Linked DNA regions of Homo sapiens: regions 1 and 2 are each linked to region 3. Evidence: fine-mapped expression QTL. A gene starts in region 3. Each other region holds a variant in brackets. All regions are shown on one strand. Distances are between the middles of the regions.

The links. PIP is the estimated chance that this variant, and not a neighbour inherited with it, causes the effect. A credible set is the group of variants that fine-mapping cannot tell apart.
Region 1: its variant is the best candidate, but not a certain one, in a credible set for the expression of AP4E1 in whole blood (TOPMed, PIP 0.59).
Region 2: its variant is the best candidate, but not a certain one, in a credible set for the expression of AP4E1 in monocytes after R848 (Quach 2016, PIP 0.57).

Annotation. Positions count from the first base shown.
Region 1 is chr15:50,801,953-50,809,869 of GRCh38, forward strand. No RefSeq gene overlaps it. Among named protein-coding and RNA genes, the nearest start is that of SPPL2A, 40 kb to the left of the region's middle. The variant G/A (reference allele first, on the strand shown) is at 3,826.
Region 2 is chr15:51,069,700-51,077,616 of GRCh38, forward strand. The region is part of intron 1 of TNFAIP8L3 (TNF alpha induced protein 8 like 3); the gene reads right to left. The region is part of intron 1 of MIR4713HG (MIR4713 host gene); the gene reads left to right. Among named protein-coding and RNA genes, the nearest start is that of TNFAIP8L3, 21 kb to the right of the region's middle. RefSeq lists enhancers at 7,072-7,628, 7,893-7,917. The variant C/T (reference allele first, on the strand shown) is at 3,542.
Region 3 is chr15:50,903,269-50,911,062 of GRCh38, forward strand. AP4E1 (adaptor related protein complex 4 subunit epsilon 1) reads left to right here and starts at 5,415. Exons shown (of 21, transcript NM_007347.5): 1 at 5,415-5,660. The coding sequence starts at 5,511. RefSeq lists enhancers at 5,008-5,749, 5,224-5,513, 5,534-5,703, 5,750-6,491.

The DNA of each region.
Region 1 (7,917 bases), 100 kb before region 3:
CGCATACCTATAATCCCAGCTACTTGGGAGGTTGAGGCAGGAGAATTGCTTCAACCCCAGGAGGTGGAAGTTGCAGTGAGCCAAAATCATGCCACTGCACTCTAGCCTGGGCAACAGAGCGAGACTCTGCTTCAAAAAAAAAAAAAAAAAAAGTATATTGGGGCCAGACGTGGTAGCTCATGCCTGTAATCCCAGAACTTTAGGAGGCTGAGGCAGGAGGATCGCTTGAGGCCAGGAGTTCAACACCAAACTGGGCAACATGCTGAGACCCTGTCTCTAAAAAAACGGAAAGAAAGAAAGAAAAAAAGTATATTGGTACTGTTCTAAGTGCTATGGAGGGAGAAAGCAGTGAACAGGACAGACAAAAGTCTTTGCCCATTTTTATTCTAAATGAAGTTAAATCTGGCTCTGTACCACATTGGTCAAGGGAGATGGGAAATCTGGGTTTTGTCATGTTTACTTTGAGGAGGGGGGCATTTCCTAGGGTATCTTCACCTTCCCAGGGTCCTACACATTCCAGAATATTCAGAGGTGAGCCCTCTGGTCTTCAGACCACACTGGCTACCACTGCTGGGTGTTGATCCTAGTCCTGTGGTTTCTTGGCTGGCCCACTTCTAATATTTTCAGGGTCTAGGATGAGAATACAAATGGAAGTTTATATTAAATATTTGAAAGTTATAAATCAGGCCAGGTGCGGTGGCTCACACCTGTAATCCCAGCACTTTGGGAGGCCGAGGAGGGCGGATCACGAGGTCAGGAGATCGAGACCATCCTGGCTAAAGTGGTGAAACCCCGTCTCTACTAAAAATACAAAAAATTAGCCAGGCGTGGTGGCAGGCGCCTGTAGTCCCAGCTACTGGGGAGGCTGAGGCAGGAGAATGGCGTGAACCCGGGAGGCGGAGCTTGCAGTGAGCCGCGATTGCGCCACTGCACTCCAGCGTGGGCGACAGAGCAAAACTCCGCCTCAAAAAAAAAAAAAAAAAAGAAAGTTATAAATCAAGCTGACAACCTCTTAAATAGGTTCTGTCATTCTGTCTTGACAAATATATTTTCATAACAAGCTGGAAGTCCTTGTTCAAATTTAGAATTTGAGGACTTCTTGGGCTTCTGCATCTGAATGTGCAGGTGTAAGAAAAGCTGGCCCTAGGCCCTAGCTTTGGCCTCTGATGATATTGTGATTAATAATAAGAAATATATATTGGGTCTTCTTCCTTTTCCTACACAGAGCTTCATTTCCTGGGTGATTGCAGTGTTTTGTTCTAATGAGGCATCTCTCAGTGGCCCCTAGATAGCTTAAGGATGGGGGCTGGTTGCAGAGGAACCATCCAGGTGATTACAGGGTTGGAACATTCAGCCCCATCCCCTGACCTCCAGGCAGGAGAGAAGGCTAAACATTGAGTTGATACCAATGGCCAGTGATTTATTCAGTCATGCCTATATAATGAGGCCTCTATAAAGACTCAGGAGAACAGTATTCAGAGAGCTTCCAGGCTGGGGAATGTGTGGACATGCTGGGAGGGCAGTATACCCAGAGAGGGTATGGAAGCTGCATGCCCCTCACCACATACTTTGCCCTATGCATCTCTTTTGTTTGGCTGTTCCTGAGTTGTATCTTTTATGATAGATGGGTAAATGTAAGTAAAGTGTTTCCCTGAGTTCTGTGAGCCATTCTAGCAAATGATTGAGCCTAAGGAGGAGGTCATAAGAACCTCTGGTTTATAGACAGTCTGCCAGAAGCACAGGTGGCAACCTGGACTTGTGATTGGTAGTTGATGTGGGGGCAGTCTTGTGGGACTGAGCCCTTAATCTTTGGAATCTGTACTGACTCCCACTAGATAGTGTCAGAAGTGAGTTTAATTCCCAGTTGGTGTCCATAGAGAATTGGAGAGTGGCTTAGTATGGGAACAAAACCCCACACATCTGGTGACAGACATGATGTATTGAGAGTGGTGTGAGGATAGAAAAAAATAGTTTGTTTTTCCTGTATATTTGGCGTTTTTTCCTTCTTACACTTCCCCTCTTTCACTTCCCATCCCAGCTCTGTTCAGGACAATAAAGGAACTTGCATGCATGTGTGTGTAGACCAGCTTACACATCCAAGCTCTGTTCACCAATCCCCATTCCTGCCAAAAAGTCACCTTTTAACTGTCCTTCATGTGAAGGCGTGTACACAGAGGCATGGCTGCCTTCAGGAATGTAAATCCTGGAAAGAGACTGGCTCAGGACCTGGAAATAGTTCAGGCCATTTGGGCTGGGAATTCTGGGGTCCCATTTAGATGAAGCACGGTCTACAAGGGTGAGGTGTGGGCTCCAGGTGGACATGCCCCTTGTGGACCTCTTCTCCCATAAAGAGGGGCACAATCCCATGGAGGGCCAGAGTAGGGCTCTCTAAAGTGTGGGACCCAGGACAAGAGCTCATCTCTCCTAGGTGTACAGGTGGTTCTGTCCTTGTGGATAGGTGATTCCTCTACTTGTTTTTTTTTTTTTTTTTTTGAGACGAAGTCTCACCCTGTTGCCCAGATTGGAGCGCAGTGTTGCAATCTTGGCTCACTGCAACCTCTGCCTCCTGGGTCCAAGCGATTCTCTTGCCTCAGCCTCCCAAGTAGCTGGGATTACAGGTGTGCACCACCATGCCTGGCTAATTTTTTGTGTCTTTAGTAGAGACAGGGTTTCACCATGTTGGCCAGGCTGGTCTCGATCTCCTGACCTCGTGATCTGCCCTCCTCAGCCTCCCAAAGTGCTGGGATTACAGGCTTGAGCCACCATGCCTGGCGATTCCTCTACTTTTGAGCACAGGTTGAGCCAGAGGTGTATACTAAAATTGGAAGACTTGAAGTCTAGTGACCAACCCTTCTTGCCCCCTGCAGTGCGGCACACTGCCAAGTCAGCTATCACGATCAGAGGCCTTGGACCCAAGTACTGTGTGGGAGCACACATGTCCCTGATTTTCTTGAAACCTATAAGCACTTTCTCCTAAACTTGGGGAGATAGTCCCCAAATAACTTTATTTCCAGTATTGGTCTACTTCTTCTCCCAACCCTTGGTGCCTCCTGCCACCTCCAATAATCCAGCAATATCACCTCCAAGACTAGATAGAAGGTTGTATTCTAAGTGTCAGGCAACTTTTAATTTTGGCCCTGCGACATTAGGGCTATTAACCATTCCCTGAAGCAGAGGGCTACTTTCTTCAGATGAGTGAGGCAAAAATACCTACAGCAGCCTGAGCAAAACACAGATTAACATCTCAGTTCCCCCCCAACAGATACATATTATCTCATTCATTTCTTTTTTTCATTTTCTTTTTATTTTTGAGATGAAGTCTCACTCTGTCGTCTAGGCTGGAGTGCAATGGCACGATCTCGGCTCACTGCAATCTTTGCCTCCTGCGTTCAAGTGATTCTCCTGCCTCAGTCTCCCAAGTAGCTGGGATTACAGGCATGCACCACTACACCTGGCTAATTTTTTTTTTTGAGACAAAGTTTTGCTCTTGTTGCCCAGGCTGGAGCACAATGGTGCGATCTCGGCTCACTGCAACCTCTGCCTCCTGAGTTCAAGCAATTCTCCCGCCTCAGCCTCCTGAGTAGCTGGGATTACAGGTGCCTGCCACCACCCCTGGCTAATTTTTGTATTTATTTTAGCAGAGATGGAGTTTCACCATGTTGGCCAGGTTGGTCTTGAACTCCTGATCTCAGATGATCCACCTGCCTCGGCCTCCCAAAGTGCTGGGATTACAGGCATGAGCCACCATGCCTGGCCTAATTTTTGTTTTTTGTTTTTGTTTGTTTTTTGAGATGGAGTCTCACTCTGTTGCCCAGGCTGGAGTGC[G/A]ATGGCATGATCTTGGCTCACTGCAACCTCCGCTTCCTGGGTTCAAGCGATTCTCCTGCCTCAGCCTCCAGAGTAGCTGGGACTACAGGTATACGCCACCACGCCCAGCTAATTTTTTTGTACTTTTAGTAGAGACAGGGTTTCATCATATTGGCCAGGCTGGTCTCAAATTCCTGATCTCAAGTGATCCGCCCGCCTTGGCCTCCCAAAGTGCTGGGATTACAGGCGTGAGCCACCGCGCTTGGCCCATTCATTTATTCATAACGGTTTTGTTAAGGAAATTAAACTGAAGCTCAGGAAGATCAAACAACTTGCTTAAGGCCATAAAATAAGGAGAAGAACTAGAATTCATTTCCAGAGCTGTCTTACTTCAAGGCTTGTGCTCTTTTCACCATCCACCAGCATCTACCACATCTAAGAGTTTTAAAGACATTTTATTTTTGTTTTATTTATTTATTTATTTAAGATGAAGTCTTGCTCTGTCGTCCAGGCTGGAGTGCAGTGGCGCAATCTCGGCTCACCACAACCTCTGCCTTCCAGGTTCAAGCGATTCTGCTCTCTCAGCCTCCTGAGTAGCTGGGATTACAGTCACAAGCCACTGCACCCGGCTTATTTTTTGTATTTATAGTAGAGACAGGGTTTCACCATGTCGGCCAGGCTGGTCTTGAACTCTCAACCTCAGGTAATCCACCCACCTCGGCTCCCAAAGTGCTAGGATTACTGGCGTGAGCCACAACGCCCAGCCAATAAATTTTAAAAATCAAATTTGTGAAATTGCTGGCCAAAGGGTGTTATGTAAGTATTCCATTCATTAGAATAGATCCTGAGATTTGTTTTTGAGAATCCAAAGTATTACAAGGGATATAGTAAGAGGGGAATTGGAGCCATTAGGGGATGCATTTCTATAAAGTGATCATGCAGCATTTTATTGAAATGTGGACTGTATGCTGGACAGCACTAAGGGATTAGCGAACTCATTTTGCATTATTTAATTCCAAAAAGCCACTAAGATGCTCATCAGAAAAGCACTGTCAAAAGTGGAAATAGATAAATGTCATCTGTAAATAAATTAGAATTGATTGTGAAATATTTGGTCAGGGCCGGGTGCAGTGGCTCACACCTGTAATCCCAGCACTTTGGGAGGTTGAGGCAGGCAGATCACAAGGTCAGGAGTTCAAGACCAGCCTGACCAACATGGTGAAACCCCGTCTCTACTAAAAATACAAAAATTAGCCAGGCGTGGCAGCGTGTGCCTGTAATCCCAGCTACTTTGGGAGGCTGAGGCAGGAGAATTGCTTGAATCCGGGAGGTGGAGGTTGCAGTGAGCCAAGATTGCACCACTGCACTCCAGCCTGGGTGACAGAGTAAGACTGTCTCAAAAAAAAAAAAAAAGAAAAGAAAAGAAAAAGAAATATTTAAATATTTGGTCAGTTCTTATTGTTTGTTGTCCTTCCTTTTCTTCCTTCCTTCCTTCCTTCCTTCCTTCCTTCCTTCCTTCCTTCCTTCCTCCCTCCCTCCCTCCCTCCCTTCCTCTCTCTCTCTTTCGAGACAGGATCTCACTCTGTCACACAGGCTGGAGTGCAGTGGTGCAATCTCGGCTCACTGCAGCCTCCACCTCCTGGGTTCAAGCAATTCTTGTGCGTCAGGCTCCCGAGTGACTGGGATTACAGGTGTGCGCTGCCACATGCGGCTAATTTTTGTATTTTTAGTACAGACGGAGTTTCACCATGTTGGCCAGGCTGGTCTCAAACTGCTGACCTCAAGTGATCTGCCTGCCTCGGCCTCCCAAAGTGCTGTTTCTTTATTCCTATCATCCTGCTCAGGGCAGAATGTGTCCTTCTAAAATGTAGGGCAGAAAGACTCCTGAGGTCTGGTTTTGTTGATGGTTTATATTGCTTGTTGTGAGTTCCAAAGATACACATCCTGAGGGAATAACAAAGACTTATTAAACTGTAACATTTAAAATCATGGAACACAAAGCTTTTTTTTTTCATTACTTTTATGCTACAACCCAGACACTATTAAGTACAGATCCTAATTGCCTCACTAATTTAAGAAGAGAATGAGGAGTAAGATAGGGAAGGGGGAAAGAAGCCAAGCAAAGGTACAATTTCAGATGATGTCTGGCCTCAGCCTGATCCTGTGGAGAGCTCTGGAGCATAAGTCATACCTTCAGGCTTATCTAGCTTTGAGGCAAATAAGTTTTGCTTTCATACTCAGACACTACTCAGGCAATGGCTATGGTTCCCTTGGGACAATTCTGGGTTTCGGGGAATAATAGTGAAGTGGATTGATTGAAAGGAAACCAAACAGAAAGTGGGAGATGGGCCCCAGAGCTAATAAAAAAAGGATCAGAGAAGCTGTGGGTGATGCACTGACAGTATCAGCTATGCCAGAGACCATCTATTCTATAGGTTAATGCTTTCACTGTAGGTCTGACTCTTTCAATCAACAGGCAAAAGCTTCATTAGCAACAAGTAGTTGTAGAGGAAGAGACTCTCAGGGCTTTGAACTGTTTAGAGTAGCCTAAGGAATTCAAACATTTTCCTACCCAAGATTCCAGGGGAATCAGAGTAGCAGGAATATGATCATATCTCCTAATACAGTGTCAAAAAACCTTTTAGGCAATTGATCGCTAAGTACAGACCGTCCCCTACTTATGATGGTTTGACTTCCGATTTTTCAACTTTATGATGGTACGAAACCACTACAATTTTGAAGTAATGTACAGTATTCAATAAATTACTTGAGATAGTCAACACTTTATGATAAAATAGGCTTTGTGTTAGATGATTTTGCCTGACTACAGGCTAATGTAAATGTTCAGAGAACGTTTAAAGTAGGCCAGGCTAAGCTGTGGTGTTCAGTAGGTTAGGTGTATTAAATGCATTTTCAACTCGAGGTATTTCAACTTGGATGGGTTTAGCAGGTGGTAACCCCAAGGTAAGTCAAGTAGCATCTGTAAATGTCATGCTACCAGCACTTTAGGAAAGGTAAAACATTTATCAGACTCAGACAGTCCTTATAAGCTTACACTATAGCCAGGTAGATGAGATTCACATGCATGAAACAAGTATGAGCAACACTGGACACGACATAATTAAAGACTGTTGAATTCTGAAAAAAGAGGAATAGACTCCTGTTGGGTACACTCAGAGACTTACAGTATAAGTGGTGAATAAGATCGGATCAAGTCTAAGCACGCAGCTATTCAACAAATGTAAACGATGTCTTTGTGCCAGATGATACGCATTTCAGGGCTTAGGGCTGGGGGACAGATCACAGGTTAGTGTGATAAGTACAATGATAGAGGATGCATTTTGGGGAATTATTTGTGTGCTGTTAGTATTTTTTAGTAGAAAGCTCAATTACTGCATTTCATTGAAGTTAAGTCCCATGAATTGTAAGATATGCCATTATTTTGTTTAGCATAATGAAAAAAAAATAACCTGCCAGTTAAGCAATGAATATGTATTATCAATTGTAAGAAATATCCGAATCACAGAGGTGTTACAATGTAAAAAAAATGTTCATTTTAGAACCAATGAAACAGGGTTAGAGGAGACTTACTTTGGATTTAAAAAAATTTTTTTTTCTTTTTTCTTTTGTCTTTTGTTGTTTTGTTTGCTTGCTTTCATTTTATTTTATTTTATTTTATCTTTTGAGATGGAGTCTTGCTCTGTTGCCCAGGCCAGAGTGCAGTGGTGCCATCTTGGCTCACTGCAACCTCCACCTCCCAGATTCAAGCAATTCTCCATGCCTCAGCCTCCTGAGTAGCTGGAATTACAGGTGCCCACCACCATGCCTGACTAATTTTTGTAGTTTTTTTAGTAGAGATGGAGTTCTGCTATGTTGGCCAGGTTGGTCTCGAACTCCTGACCTCAGGTGATCTGCCAGCCTTGGCCTCCCAAAGTGCTGGGATTACAGGCATAAGCCGCCATGCCCAGCCTCTCTTACTTCTAATTAGAACTAGTTCAGTCTTGTAACAAAGACCAATAATAATTTATGAATAGTAGCTAATATTTATCAGATGCTCAGTATGGACATGACCTTGGGCTAACTGCTTTTTACCCATTACTTAATTTAATTATT
Region 2 (7,917 bases), 170 kb after region 3:
ACAACAATTCCTCAAGAGAGGGACTGTGAGTTCCATTTTATAGATGAGGAAACTGAGGCACAGTCAATTTAAGTAATTCACTGCAAGCTAAGTGGCTAGTAAGTAGCAAAGCTGCAGTTGGGCCCAAGTTCACCAGACACCAAAGCCTACAGTCTTTGCCTTCCTGCATCTGCCTTCGAAAAATTCCCCTTGGCTCCCTAATGACTGAGATTTCTCACTTATTTGAAACATTAAAGGCCTCAGTTTGAATCTCCACCTACCTAGGGGAGTTGTATTTCATCACTTTTTTAAATACAAAAGGGCCAGTCTTATGTGATAGAACATACTCATCAAGACTTGAAGATAGATGTAGCTTTCATTTTTAGAGGGAATTCTGTATATTTCAACAGTTACATATTAATGTTGCTTTTCATATTGATTTTACAGCCAGCTCTGAAAAGTGAATGAGTGTTTGATAATTTTACTTACCAGAGCTCACTGAAGCAGATACTTGTGAAGCCACTGGGGGGTGAATCATCTCCAAATCAACAGGTTAATTTTGGAGATCTGAGAGATATTTTTGGCTCACTGCAGAAAAGTAACCATCACTAAAAACAACATCTACTTACATGATTTCTTTAAATGAAGCTTATTCATTCCCCCAAATCCCTTGCATCTAACAAATAACTAGTGTCTTTCTGAATGGTAGATTATATTCAGGCATAATAATAATAAAGTGCTTGCTCTTCCATGTGCTTTATGCACAGTTAAGCCATCATATTCTTGCAACAACTGTATCAAGTAGGCACTAATGTCAGCGATAGCAATGGATGCAGCATTTCACATCAAGGAAACCAAGGCAAAGAGAGATTAAGTAGCTTGTCTGAATCCACCATTTAGAAAGTGGCAGAGCTGGATTGGGCAGACTCTGCCCCAGAGTCTGCCTGAGTTCAGTGCTTCAGCCTGCCACACTGAGCTGCGATGCATGGGGTGACAAACATCAATTAGTTTAAATGTTTTCTGAATTATTGCCCACTTTAAGATGGAGATTGAGCAGTATTTTTCCCTCACAAGAATTAATTTTCTGGCCGGGCGCGGTGGCTCACGCCTGTAATCCCAGCACTTTGGGAGGCCAAGGCGGGCGGATCACGAGGTCAGGAGATCGAGACCATCCCGGCTAAAACGGTGAAACCCCGTCTCTACTAAAAATACAAAAAAAAAAATTAGCCGGGCGTAGTGGCGGGCGCCTGTAGTCCCAGCTACTTGGGAGGCTGAGGCAGGAGAATGGCGTGAACCCGGGAGGTGGAGCTTGCAGTGAGCCGAGATCCCGCCACTGCACTCCAGCCTGGGCGACAGAGCGAGACTCCGTCTCAAAAAAAAAAAAAAAAAAAAAAAGAATTAATTTTCTAAAAACCACCAAGTGTTTCAAACATATAAATAGATAAAAATATGTAATGCCTAAAAACATATACATAAACATAAACAAAATAGAAGATAATTTAACAAATACTGTGTAGCCACCACCCAGATGGAACAATTGTTAATATTTTAAATATTAAGCATTTCAAACATATGGCCAAAATAGAACATAATTTAACAAACACTGTGTGGTCACCACTCAGGTGGAAAAATTCTTAATAGTTTACCCTCAAAGACAGGGAGAGGTAAAGCCCTCTTTGCTTTCAACTCCCTCTCTTCTGCTTCTAGCTCCCAGATCAAACTGCACTACAGAAGTTGTATTTTTTTTTCATCTATCCACGTTTTTATGCTTTTGTCTCATTTCATAAGTATGCATGCATCAACATCATGTTTAAATTTCACACAGAAGGTGTCATACTACACAGATCCTTCTACAACTCTTTATTCCACATCCTGTTTTCAAGATTTATCTTGTTTAATCATTTAGTTGCTTATATAAATATATATCTTCAAGTTTCCTCCTGATGGACATTTAAGTTCTTTCCATTTTCTGCAAGGAAAAAGTGTCTCCTTGTGCGCACACACACAACAGTCTCCTGGGGTCTATACCTATAACTTGATTGCCAAGGCCTGCAGCAGCAAGGGCTGCCAATGGCTCTCCAGAGAGACTGCACTCATTTTCACTCCCAGCAGCAGTGTCTTGAGTTCCTGTGGTTGCACTTCCTCATCAACACTTCAAATCATCCAACTTTTTAATTTTTGCCAATCTGATAGGTATAAAATGGTACCTTGTTTTAATATGCATGTTCCTGATTGCTGGTGAGAGTCAATGTATTTGTGTTTATTGGGCATTAAGGTTTTTCTCTTCTGCAAATTGCTTGTTCATATAATTTACTCATTTTTTCAGTTGAATTATATATATTTTTCTTTTTTGTATATTTTGCTTATGATTCTAAGCCTCTGCTGATCACAGGGCTGGCAACTATCTCTTCCCAGTCTGTAGCATTACATTTTAACTTTATTATGGTGTCTTTAATCATACAGAAAGCTATTTTTTTTTTAGATGGAGTTTCACTCTTGTTGCCCAGGCTGGAGTGCAATGGCACGATCTCGGCTCACCGCAACCTCTGCCTCCTGGTTTCAAGCAATTCTCTTGCTGCAGCCTCCCGAGTAACTGGGATTACAGGCATGCACCACCATGCCCGGCTAATTTTGTATTTTTAGTACAGATGGGGTTTCTCTATGTTGGTCAGGCTGATCTCGAACTCCTGATCTCAAGTGATCTGCCTCCTCTTAGCCTCCCAAAGTGCTGAGATTATAGGCATAAGCCACCGCGCCTGGCCAGAAATCTAAAATTTTAATAGTCTAATTTATCAATCTTTTCCTTGATGGTTGGTGGTTTCTGTATCTCATTTTAAAAATTCTTCTCTTGCCATGAGGTGATAAAAGATAACCATATATTTTCCAGAGGTTTAAAGGTTTTGTTTTTCACATTTAGGTCTTTAATCAATCTGAAAATTATCTGTACATATTGCATGAGGTTGGGAATCTTTTTCTCCCCACGATTTATTCTATTTATTGAATAGTTCATACTTCTGCTACCTATCTGGTAGGCCCCTTCTTTTCATATCAGGTTTCTATATTGCATAGATCTGTTTTTGAGTTTTTTACTCTGTTTATTAGACTCTGGTCTATTTCAGTACAAAAACCAAGTTTTCTTAATATAACTCGTAAGTCATGATAGTCCAAAGGGAAGTGCCCCTCCTCACCCTCACTTTATTCTGCTTAGAAACTGTCTTGATTATTCTTGCCTTTATTCTTCCATAGGAATTTTAGGATAATATGATCAAATGCCATGAGCACTCTATGTTGATCTGAAGTAAACTGGGATCCTTTTTTTTTTTTTTTTTTTTTTTGAGACAGAGTTTTGCTCTTGTTGCCCAGGCTGGAGTGCAATGGTGCAATCTCGGCTCACTGCAACCTCCACCTCCCGGTTTCAAGCGATTCTTCTGCCTCAGCCTCCTGAGTAGCTGGGATTACAGGCATGCGCCACCATGCCTGGCTAATTTTGTATTTTTAGTAGAGATGGGGTTCCTCCATGTTGGTCAGGCTGGTCTCAAACTCCCGACCTCAGGTGATCTGC[C/T]TGCCTTGGCCTCCCAAAGTGCTGGGACTATAGGCGTGAGCCACCACGCCCAGCCTAAACTGGTATCTTTATGATACTGAATCTTCCTCTCCATTAACATGACATGTCTCTCCATTTAGTCATATCTTCTTCTGTGTCCTTCAATTATGTTTACAGTCATCTCCATAAATCTCTTGCATATCTTTCATTAGATTTACTTCTAGCTACCTTACAGTTTTGGTTGCTGCTGTTAATTTTTTTCTATTACAGTTTCTAAATGGTTATTAATGATGCATAGGAACCCAACTGATCCCTGTATACTTATCTCCAATTGAGACATTTTGCCGAGCTCTGTTATGAGTTCTAATTTATATAGCATCTCTTGGACTTTTTAATGTAGACAACATTGCCTACACAAAATGATTGTTTTCTTTGACCCCCTATTTCTTTTTCCTGCTTTATAACACCGGTAGAAAACATCCAGCACAGTGTTGAATAGCATTACATGGCATCCTGGTCTTGTTCCTAACTTTAACAGGATTGTCTCTAAAATTTCCCTGAGTATGCAATGTTTGCTGTGGGTTTTGATGGATACCCCTTATCAAGTTATCTTCCTTTTATTCCTATTTTGCTAAGGCATTGTTTGCTTTTAAGTAGAAATGTATCCAATTTTAGCAAACAATTTCTTTGTATCCACTGAGATGATCATATAATTTATCTTATAATATGTAAATTTAACCAATTATTCAAAGACTTTTTGATTTAAATCATCATTATATTCCCAGGATAAGCCCTACTTGGTCAATGATGCATATGTATTTACTATACTGGTGAATTCTACTAGTAAATATTGCATTTTGCAACTATACTCAAAAGTGAGATTGGTCTATAACTTTTTCATAGTACTATCTTTGTCAAATTTTGATGTCAGAGAAGACTAGTCCCATAAAACGGATTGAGTAGCTTTCCTTCTTTTTCTGTGTCTGAGAGTGTTTATGTAAGGTGGGGATTAACTGTTTTTTGACAGTTTTAGTAAAACTAGCCTGCATTTCACTCGACATTCTGAGGATATCTTTCCATGACAACAAATGTACTACATCATTGTTTTTTGACAATAGCACATGCCACCATTTTCTCTACTGGTCCCCTCTTGGTAGGTTTCAAACTGTTTCCAGTTTTTGCTATGAAGTATCTGCAGAAAGTAACAACCTAGCAGCAGGCTGCCTGTTGGGGAAAAGGGTGCCTTTTGGCACATGGTAGGATTCCCTTCTAATGCTCCTTCCTAAGTAACAAAGTAACAGGAGATACTGAAGAGGAGCTCCATGAACAGACCTCTGGCTCTGCCCACCGGATCCCATCCCTCCTACCAGAGGCCTGCTTGCCCAATTCAAAGCCAAAAGGAGGCTCAACTCTTCACAAAAATGGTTTTGCCCTAACCCAACTGGCTGAAATAGTCGGGATGACAGCCAAACAGTACCAGAAGTCAAGCCAGCTCTCCCTAAGGGTGCTGCCCTGGCTGCCAGCCATGCCCTGACTCTCGTGCCATAGCTGAATCCAGTGGACCCTCGCCCAGGTGGAAGAGGCACAGCTGACAGGTTGTTTGTTGCCGCTGAAGGTCCCCTCCCACCATGAGCCCCTGGCCAACCCTTATATCCCTCTTGTCAGGGAGGCTGGCCCTCACACCTAGCTCAGTGGTAGCCCTGTTCCTGTGCTGCACTGCGACTGGCCATCTACTTTCCGCATCCGGTGCTGAGTTCTTAGGGATTGATGCTCAGAAGACCTGTGAATCCCCATAAGCAGAACTGCCTACTATGCAGAAGTTACTCAGTATATGTCTTGTATATATGTCTCAGTAAATGAATGACTGATGAATGATTTTAGCGTGTTTGTTCTTGTTCTTTGAGGCTCAGATTCCATCAGTTCAGGACCCACACCTGGAAGGAGGTGCATATTCACAATGTGCAGGTGGAACTGAATGTACTCAAATGCCTTCTGAACTAAGCACAAGGTCCACCCTTTGCCTTTCATACGGAGCTATCTGCTTGGCCCACTTGGGTTCTGCCTGTCTTTGACCCAACAACAGCAGCATCACCTGGGGGCCAGAGGGATTGCCCACCATGCTCTCAGTGTTCAGTTCCAGCAGTAAACCCTTTCTCCATGGCAGAAGCACCCCTCCTTCCTGCCACCCCTGGAGCCTCCCCATTTACGCCCCTTCACACTCATGAGCTATTTTAATATACTCAGGAGCTGTCGGGCTTGGAATAGCACAGTCCACGTTCTGTCTCTCTGGGCAATCCTCTCTCTCTCTGCTGGCAGCTCCCAAACTTTCTCTACCACGGCAGGCACCCAAGAACTCAGGCTCAGAACACCAGACTGCTAACAAGGACACCAGTAGGATGCCACATTCAGAGCCATGGGAGCATGCCAACACCGTAATATGTGAAATTAGTAAACAGTCTAATGCAATAAAAATGTCAGTCTTTGGAATGCTGTAATTTTTGGAGGATGGATGCAGAACCTAAAATGTGCAAAACAATAAAATGGAACAAACTCGTCTATCTTGGAAAAAAGAAACAAAACATGGCCTGTGACAGTGGACTGAGGCTACTGGAAGGTGCTCTAATTAATTAATGTAGTAACATGTAAACCCTCAGCTTAGTGAGCTTAACAACAACTAGACAAACTGTTAGCTGTACTTGAGAGGTCAGAACACACGAGGGAGAAGAAACCAGAAGGTACTTCTGTATGGGAGATGATTTGGCAGACAGCATTATGGCTTCCTCAGTGTTCTACTTGATTTTTTTTTTAGTGAAATATGAATCCTGAACAATGACATTTTTGGATTTCAGTCAATCTGAATGCGGAACAGCAGGAAAGGGACATGTAATATATTGCTTATAATCTCCCTTACATATACTCTGTAGTAAAACTGGTTTTGTTTACGGATTTAAGACAAGTCAAGCCACATTTTTAATATCTGCTGGTGTCATGGTCAATATCTGGCCTGTGGAATGACAGTGTTGAGGGATGTTGTTAGCAGATGGGAGGTGGGATGACACCCGCAAGATCTCCTGAGGTTGGGCTCCTAAGCTCTGCTGGGACCGCTACTGTGATGGAACCACTCTGAGTCCAGGGGGAATCCCATTCACATCACGTAATGGGAGGGGCCAACTAGCTGTGGAGGCTTAACTTCCTGGAAGTTTCTCAGAAATGTGACTTTCTCTCAGGCTTCCTTTCTAAATTAAACTCTAAGGCCACAAATGGCTAAGAATAGAATTTTTTATACTTCATGGTAACGTAAAGAAGTACCACCAAAAGGTTTCACTGTTTTCCAACCAAATCACCAGGTGTGGTCACTCAAAGATGCTGAGAATGGCTGTCCTGCACAATCAAGATGCCAGGGTGTATCCATGGAGTAGCTAGCTCCTCGGATACAGGGAAAACGAGAGAGCCCAGTCCTGGTCCTGACTTTTGCCACTGAGCCAGCAGCAGGAAGTGGAAGACAGAGCCCGGCCTCCAGCCCTGCCCTGCCCCTGCCACCCCCAGCGCACTCACTGTGTGCCATGGGCCCATCTCTTTACCTGCTGGTTTCTGGGTCTGTTAAATGAGAAAGCAGACTAGAAGATTCTGCTAATTTGCTTTCTCAATTTAATAGTAACCCCTTAAGTATGATAAATTGAATTTTTGTCATCATCTGGGCACGCATCAGATGTGCGCTGATGCCTGTGGAGAGGTCCTCCGCGTTCCTCCTCTCCCGTGCTGGATTCCTGCCGCCCCCCATTCTACTCCCGCCATTCTTCGTAAATGGAATCCTCCTGCTTCTTTCTCACTGTGTAACACCTGGGGCATCGACCTTGGAGCCTCCAGCTTTCCTTATCTGTGACTTCCCTCCAAAATGCTGCTCCCTCCCCTGTTTCCCTGGGGCCCTTGACTCCTCCATTAGACCTCAGCCTCCTCTGTCAGTCCTTGGCCTGTGCTCGCCACAGAGCGTGCGGTCAGCAGGCGTCATGCTGGCTCTCCCCAAGGCCTCTTCCTGTGTTGGCCTCAGTGCCCACAGACCAAACCACAGACTGCCAGGCCCCCAGGCCCCGGCAGGCCGCCCTGTGCTGACGTAGCTGTGGGTGGGACTCGTGTCCGAAACCTCAAGGCCAGCCCTTCCCGCTGGTCCCATATCCCAGCTGCCCCGCCTGTCTCCCCAGCCTCTCATCCCGCTTTGCTCAGCGCAGCTCCTCCCTAAGCCAAGCACGCCCTGCTGCCCACCCCGCTCCCATCTTATGCAAGGGGGCCTAGTCAAGGAACCCCCACCTGGCTTCAATTGTTTGTACCCTGGCAGTTCCGAGAGGGGAGACCTTTGATAGAGACAGGAGACAGCCAAGGGGTCCCTTGCAAAACACCCC
Region 3 (7,794 bases):
GTTCACGCCATTCTCCTGCCTCAGCCTCCCGTGTAGCTGGGACTACAGGCGCGCGCCACCATGCCCGGCTAATTTTTGTATTTTTAGTAGAGACGGGGTTTCACCGTGTTAGCCAGGATGGTCTCGATCTCCTGACCTCGTGATCCGTCCGTCTCGGCCTCCCAAAGTGCTGGGATTACAGGCGTGAGCCACCGCGCCCGGCCTTCTCTTTTCTTTTTTTGAGACGGAGTCTCACTCTGTCGCCCAGGCTGGAGTGCAGTGGCGTGATCTAGGCTCACTGCAAGCTCCGCCTCCCAGGTTCACGCCATTCTCCTGCCTCAGCCTCCAGAATCGCTGGGACTACAGGCGCCCGCCACCACGCCCGGCTAATTTTTTGTATTTTTGGTAGAGACGGGTTTTGCACCGTGTTAACTAGGATGGTATTGATCTCCTGACCTCGTGATCCCCCCGCCTTGGCCTCCCAAAGTGCTGGCATTACAAGCATGAGCCACTGTGCCAGGCCGGTTCAGCTTTCAAGTTAAACAATGATACAAATGCTTTTCCTTGAGAAACTATCTTATCTCAGTTATGCCTCAAGAATTTTTTCTTTTTCTTTTTTTTTTTTTTGAGACGGAGTTTCGCTCTTGTTGCCCAGGTTGAAGTGCAATGGCACGATCTCAGCTCACTGCAACCTCCGCCTCCCGGGTTCAAGTGATTCTCCTGCCTCAGCCTCCCAAGTAGCTGGGATTACAGGCATGTGCCACCACGCGCAGGTAATTTTGCATTTTTAGTAGAGATGGGGTTTCACCACGTTGGCCAGGCTGGTTTCGAACCCCTGACCTCAGGTGCTCTGCCCGCCTCAGCCTCCCAAAGTGCTGGGATTATAGGCCTGAGCCACCACACCCGGCCAAAAGAAAAGCCTCAGGATTTAAGAGTTTATACTTTATGAGGTTGTACTTTATGAGTACTTCCCATTTTGTCACAAAAAAAATTTTTTAAAAAGTGCACTCAAAGACTGAAATTTAATAAAATTAAGAATTCTTACTGCTTCATCAAGGATATTCTTAAGTGAAACTGACTTAAAAAAAATTGAGTGTATTGTTCCAGGATAAACTATGAGATTCAAAGAAGTTGTTCAATACATTATTTCATCACCACTTGTGTTTCTTGTCAAGATTTATGTAAAAGAGGATCTTCAAGAATTAGTTGGTGCTGACACTGGATGGGTATAAGCAAAGCAACAAGTCCAGCTACATGAATAATTATGTCCATTTTAAAGGAATTATAATTCTGCAGATGACATAGTAACTCAGTCTTTATATTTGCAACTAAATTTCTTTCTTTTTTTTGAGACAGTCTTGCTCTGTTGTCCAGGCTGGAGTGCCGTGGCACCATCTCAGCTCACTGTAACCTCTGCCTCCCAGGTTCAAGTGATTCTCCAGCCTCAGCCTCCCGAATAACTGGGATTACAGGCATGTACCACCATGCCCAGCTAATTTTTTTTTTTTGTATTTTTAGTAGAGACAGGGTTTCACCATATTGGCCAGGTTGGTCTCAAACTCCTGATCTCAAGTTATCCGCCTGCCTTGGCCTCCCAAAATTCAGGGATTACAGGCATGAGCCACCTCGCCTGGCCTGCAACTAAATGTCTAATTTGGTGAGTTATTGCATCTTTGGAAAGTAGCACTCCCATGAGTTCTTTTACTGATTATCAGCTAGCAGGCATTCATTAGTCTTTTAGCTATTGCATGTCCTTCTCCTATCAATGAAATATAATAATTTCATGTGTAAGATGCTTCAGTAGGTTTTTCATTTTTACTTTGAAAATGGTAATACAAAAGCTTTGGCTTTTATAAAGCATATCATCTCTATGTTGAAAGTATTAAATTCCCTTTCTTTTAAATTCTGACTGGTCTGAAAATGATGCCTCAACTTGATTGGCACCATAATAGTATTTGAAAATGTTCTGTTGAATGACATAAAATAAGGCAAGTGATTAACATCTCTAATGCCAAGGGAAAGAAAGAAGCTTTTGTCATACTTTCCTTTGTTATTTATAGTTTCGACCAGATTTCTCCCTTTCCCTGAGTCAGTGAATTCTGATACTGATGTCAGCTTCATCTTTTTCGGCATCTTTACAGACGGGAAGGTTAGAAAGCGAATCTTCTAGTATCCCCTTTTTAAGCCAATGGAAGAACCTAAAATTAAAAAACTATACATAAAACAAAATTTAATTTAAAGATAAAATATTAAATTCCTTTTTTTTTTGGAGACAGAGTCTTGCTCTGTCACCCAGGCTGGAGTACAGTGGTGCGATCTTGGCTCACTGCAACCTTCGCCTCCTAGGTTCAAGCAATTCTCCTGCCTCAGCTTCCCAAGTAGTTGGGACTACAGGTGTGCCACCATGCCCGGCTAAATTTTTTGTATTTTTTTTTTTTTGAGGTGGAGTCTTGCTCTGTCGCCCACGCTGGAGTGCAGTGGTGAAATCTCGGCTCACTGCAACCTCCGCCTCCCGGGTCCCAGCAATTCTCCTGCCTCAGCCTCCCGAGTAGCTGGGATTACGGGCGCACGCCACCATGCCCGGCTAATTTCTGTATTTTTTTAGTAGAGTCATAGGTTGGCCAGGCTGGTCTTGATATCCTGACCTTGTGGTCTGTGCACCTTGGCCTCCCAAAGTGCTGTGATTACAGGTGGGAGCCACCGTGCCTGTCCGAATATTTTGTATTTTTAGTAGAGACGGGGTTTCACCATGTTGGCCAGGTTGGTCTGGAACTCCTGAGCTCAGACAATCTGCCCGCCTTGGCCTCCCAAAGTGCTAGAATATAGGCATAAACCACCGCGCCCGGACGACAAAATATTAAATTCTAGGCAGGGCGTGGTGGCTCACACCTGTAATCCCAGCACTTTGAGTGGCTGAGGCGGGCAGATCATGAGGTCAGGAGACCGAGGCCATCCTGGCCAACGTGGTGAAACCACATCTCTACTAAAAATACAAAAAATTAGCCGGGTGTGGTGGCACGCACCTGTAATCCCAGCTACTCGGGAGGCTGAGGCAGGAGAACTGCTTGAACCTGGGAGGCGGAGGTTGCAGTGGGCCGAGATCACACCACTGCACTCCATCCTGGGCAACAGAGCGAGACACCATCTCAAAAAATAATAATAAAATAACAAAATTAAATTCTAAAAGAGTATCCCTTTCTGGCTGGGCGCAGTGGCTCGCGCTTGTAATCCCAGCACTTTGGGAGGCTGAGGTGGGCGGATCACCTGAGGTCAGGAGTTCGAGACCAGCCTGGCCAAAATGGTGAAACTCTGTGTTTACTAAAAATACAAAAATTAGCCGGGCATGGTGGCGGGCGCCTGTAATCCCAGCTACTCGGGAGGCTGAGGCAGGAGAATTGCTTGAACCCAGGGGGAGGAGGCTGCAGTGAACCCAGATTGTGCCACTGCATTCCAGTCTGGGTGATAGAGCGAGACTCTGAAAAAAAAAAAATTAAATGAATAAATGAGTATCCCTTTTAGATAAAGTTTAAATATTTTAAAATGTTCTCAATATATTAAAAAATATTCTTGCGAGACAAGCCAACAAATTGAACTTTTTTCTTATGTTCCCATATAGGTATTAAAACAACTTCAGGATTTCAAAAAAACTCATTTATTAGGTGACAAGGAGGTTACAGAGATTAGAGCAGGTATAACCGAAGATAGCTTGTAAGTGTAGCTGTAGCTGGTGGGCCGGTTGAGGTTCTGGACTTCGCGGTGCAAAATAATTTTGAAGTCCAAAGTAAAAGCAAGCAAAAGAGTTTATTGCAAAGCGAAAGTACACCCTCACAGCTGATCAGAGCGGGCTGCTCAAAGGTGAGACAGCATGCACTGACACTGGGGAAACTCCCTTTGTAGGAGTCTCACAGGATCATTCATGAAGCGGGGAGAACGGGTGCTGCTATTAAGCACGTTCTCTGGTTTTCTGTCGCCATGTGCGCTGTGGTTGTATATGCTAGTACATACACTGCATGTCTTATTAGTATCTTAAATCTTCACCCAGGAGTGGTGTTTTTTTTTTTTTTTTTTTTTTACTATTATAATGAGTATAATTCAGCCCAACGACACTGATCATGGGTTTCTGCGCTTGTGAGAGTTTGGGGATTTTCCCTTCTGCTCTCGTACCTCTTTGCTGCAAAATTTTCTAACCAGGAGCCTCGGATGTGGTTTGTACACTATGGGCTGGTTTGTTCTATTTATTTAGCAAGTTTGTTCCCCTTGAAGGGAGGCTATCACCACCTACCTAACCTACCTCCTAGAAACACACTAGGAGTACTGAGAGCAAATTGCATTAATCTCTGAAAACGCACGTATTTATGCCCTAAACCTACTACCTTAGAAAATTCTAGAAAACACAAGGATACTCCAGGATACATTTTACCAGCTAGTCAATCGTCATCTAGCCGCTTGAAAACTCTGTACATTTCCAACAGAATGAGGGTAAAAACGGCAAATAACACGTAAGAAACGTTATCAATGTTGTTTTGACTTTGTGAATTCCCTAGAAGGGTCTCAGCGACCCTGAGGTCACCAGACCACATTTCGAGAGCCATTGTACCAGACTCTGTTCTAGATAAAAGACGGAGCAATCGGAATGAATAAAATACTCTCTCTATGGGGAGCTGTTTACGTAGTGGCAACTGCGACCTGTTCTAAAGTGGAACAGAACCGAGCGCTGTGAGAGGGTGGGACTTGGAGACCTATCCTTGCCCGCCGGGCCAGGGGAGTGGGCTCTAGAAGGATGACCTTTCAACTGCGACCTGCTGAGGAGGAGTCGGCAAGGGTGGCCGCCGACCAGTTCTCTTTCCCGCCCACCTCCCCAAATCCCAGGAGAAGAGGGGCGGACGGGAAGCGACAGTGGCCGCGAGTCCCCGGCACGCGACGGGCTCTCAACCTGGCACGCCGAATCCTCAGGACAGCCCCGCTATCACGCAACTACTCGGGTGTCCCAAGAGTCGCCAGGGCCGGAGCCGCGCGCGGCGCCGGGGACCCGCGTGAAACCGCCTGTGGGAAGCGGGCGGGTGGCGCGCGCTCCGGGGACAGTGAGAGGCGGCGGACGGCGCGGGGACGTCCCGAAAAAGGCGCAGCCAGGAAGACGCAACTCCTGACGCGGTCTCGGGCTACGCGGAGGCGGCTAGTGGGAAAGGGGGACTCTGGGAGACAGTGCCTAACAGGGCCAGGCCCCCGACGGCTTCCTCAGGAGGACTCACGGTTCTGGGGGATTCCGGAACCGCTACCCCGTCGCGAGAAAGGAGGTCTACTTACGCGCGCAATCTCGAGCGAGCGGCCTTTTCCACCCCCGCGGTCTCTTGCGCCCTCTGGTGGCCTCTCGCGAGAACGACGCTGAACTTGTTCAGGTGGGACGCCAATAAAGATTTCTTATTCAAAAAACAGGAAGTGCCTACGGAGGCCGGGCCGGCAGCGGCGGCCGGGCATGAAGCCGGGCGGCTACGGGATCGCGGGCGGCGGCGGCATCGCGGGCGGCGGCGGCGATGAGCGACATAGTGGAGAAGACGCTGACGGCGCTGCCGGGACTCTTTCTGCAGAACCAGCCCGGTGGTGGGCCCGCGGCCGCCAAGGCGTCCTTCTCCTCGAGGCTGGGCAGCCTTGTCCGCGGCATCACAGCCCTCACCTCCAAGCACGTAGGTGCCCGCCGGCCCGGGAGCTCAGGGACATCGGAGTGAGGCCCCCGCGCCAGGAGGCCCTGGCCGGGCGGCGAGACTTCAGGGCCTCTGGGGTTAGCCCTCCGGCGGGGCTCAGGGGCTGCTGTGTCGGTTCGTCCTTTCGTCTGCCTGGAAGCTTCACTTTCCTGCTGGGACTGACAGCAGGGAAGCCGAGTTTCCACAGTTAGTTCTGACACTGACTCTTTGATCGGGGGCACATCTCTGTAACCTCTGAGCCTCCGTGTGTTTTCTCAACGTTGTGGTGGAAAAGTACTGATACATAATTCATAGGTTTTTTGTTTGTTTTGAGGATTGGGTGAGATGTCAAGCGTGTGAAAATACCTAGTGCGATGGAAGTGTCAGACATTATTTACCTTCCACAAAGTTTTTTTTCCCTACTCAGTTTCCTTCTCTCCCCCGGTGCCTTCAACTGAACAACAGTTCAGATGTCGCATACCTGAAGAGATCCTGTGAGCCTCTTGTTGAATATCTTTGGGGAGCTTGAGGTTCTTGGGTTACAACAACGTGTTGGGCAAAGAAAAAGCACAGTTCTCTCAAAATGTAAAATTTGCTAAGTCTCTGCCTCAAGTGGGCTTTGAAAATGAGCAGTTATAAAAATTCTTAAACTTTTAAAATTTTTAAATTTTTATTGACGGAGTCTCTCTCTGTCGCCCAGGCTGGAGTGCAATGGTGCGATCTCGATCTCGGCTCGCTGGAGCCTTAAGGTTTTAAAAATTTTAATTTTTGTTTTTTTTTGAGACGGAGTCTCGCTCTGTCGCGCAGGCTGGAGTGCAGTGGCGCGATCTGGGCTCACTACAAGCTCCGCCTTCCGGGTTCACGCCATTCTCCTGCCTCAGCTTCCCGAGTAGCTGGGACTACAAGTGCCCGCCACTGCCTGGCTAATTTTTTGTACTTTTCGTAGAGACGGGGTTTCACCGTGTTAGCGAGGATGGTCTCGATCTCCTGACCTCGCGATCCGCCCGCCTTGGCGTCCCAAAGTGTTGGGATTACGTGCGTGAGCTACCCTGCCCGGCCTTAAAATTTTTAAATTTTTAATGACGGAGTCTCGCTCTGTCGCCCAGGCTGGAGTGCGATGGTGCGATCTTGGCTCACTGGAGCGTCTGCCTCCCGGGTTCAAGCGATTCTCCTGCCTCAGCCTCCCAAGTAGCTGGGATTATAGGCGTATGCCACTACGCCCGGCTAATTTTTGTATTTTTAGTAGAGACAGGATTTCACCATGTTGGGCAGGCTGGTCTTGAACTGACCTCAAGTGTTCGCTCACTTCGGCCTCCCAAAGTGCTGGGATTACAGGCATGAGCCACCGCGCCGGGCCCCCACAGGCGCTCGATGGTTGCACGGATTGTGTAGTATACCGATTCACAGCTACAAGGAGTTTATATCTTAAAAAGAGCACGTGTTAATGTCATTATTTGTTCAACAGATGTTTATGGAACAAGGTTATGTGTTAGACACAGGAAAATAGAATTAAACACATTCCCTTTTCCCAAGGAATTAGTCATTCGTTTTGGGCTTAAGACAAGTATAAGCATGACTACAATGCAATAGAAGTGCTAAAAGAGAAGGAAAGACAGAAAAGAAAGTGCTCTGAAGGTTTAAAAAAAATATTTTTTTGGCAGCTCTAATAAGTTGATGCTATCCGGAGAGAACCTGCTTCACATTCCAGAATCATTACTTGTGGGCTTGTCTTGTTTTGTTTTGTTTTTGAGATGGAGTCTCACTCTGTCGCCCAGGCTGGAATGCAGTGGTGCAATCTTGGCTCACTGCAACTTCTGCTTCCTGGGTTCAAGTGATTCTTCTGCCTCAGCCTCCCTGGTAGCTGGGATTACAGGCACACGTCACCATACCCGGCTAATTTTTATATTTTTAGTAGAGACAGGGTTTCGCCATGTTGGCCAGGCTGGTCTTGAACTCCTGACCTCAGGTAATCCACCTGCCTTGGCCTTGGCCTCCCAAAGTGCTGGGATTACAGGCGTGAGCCACCACGCCTGGCCATTTGTGGCCTTAATAATGTTGTTTTTCTTAAGGTTTTTGTCCTTTGCTAATTTTTAAGGGATCCTCAATAAAATTTTTTAAAAAGTTATTTTTGGTCTTA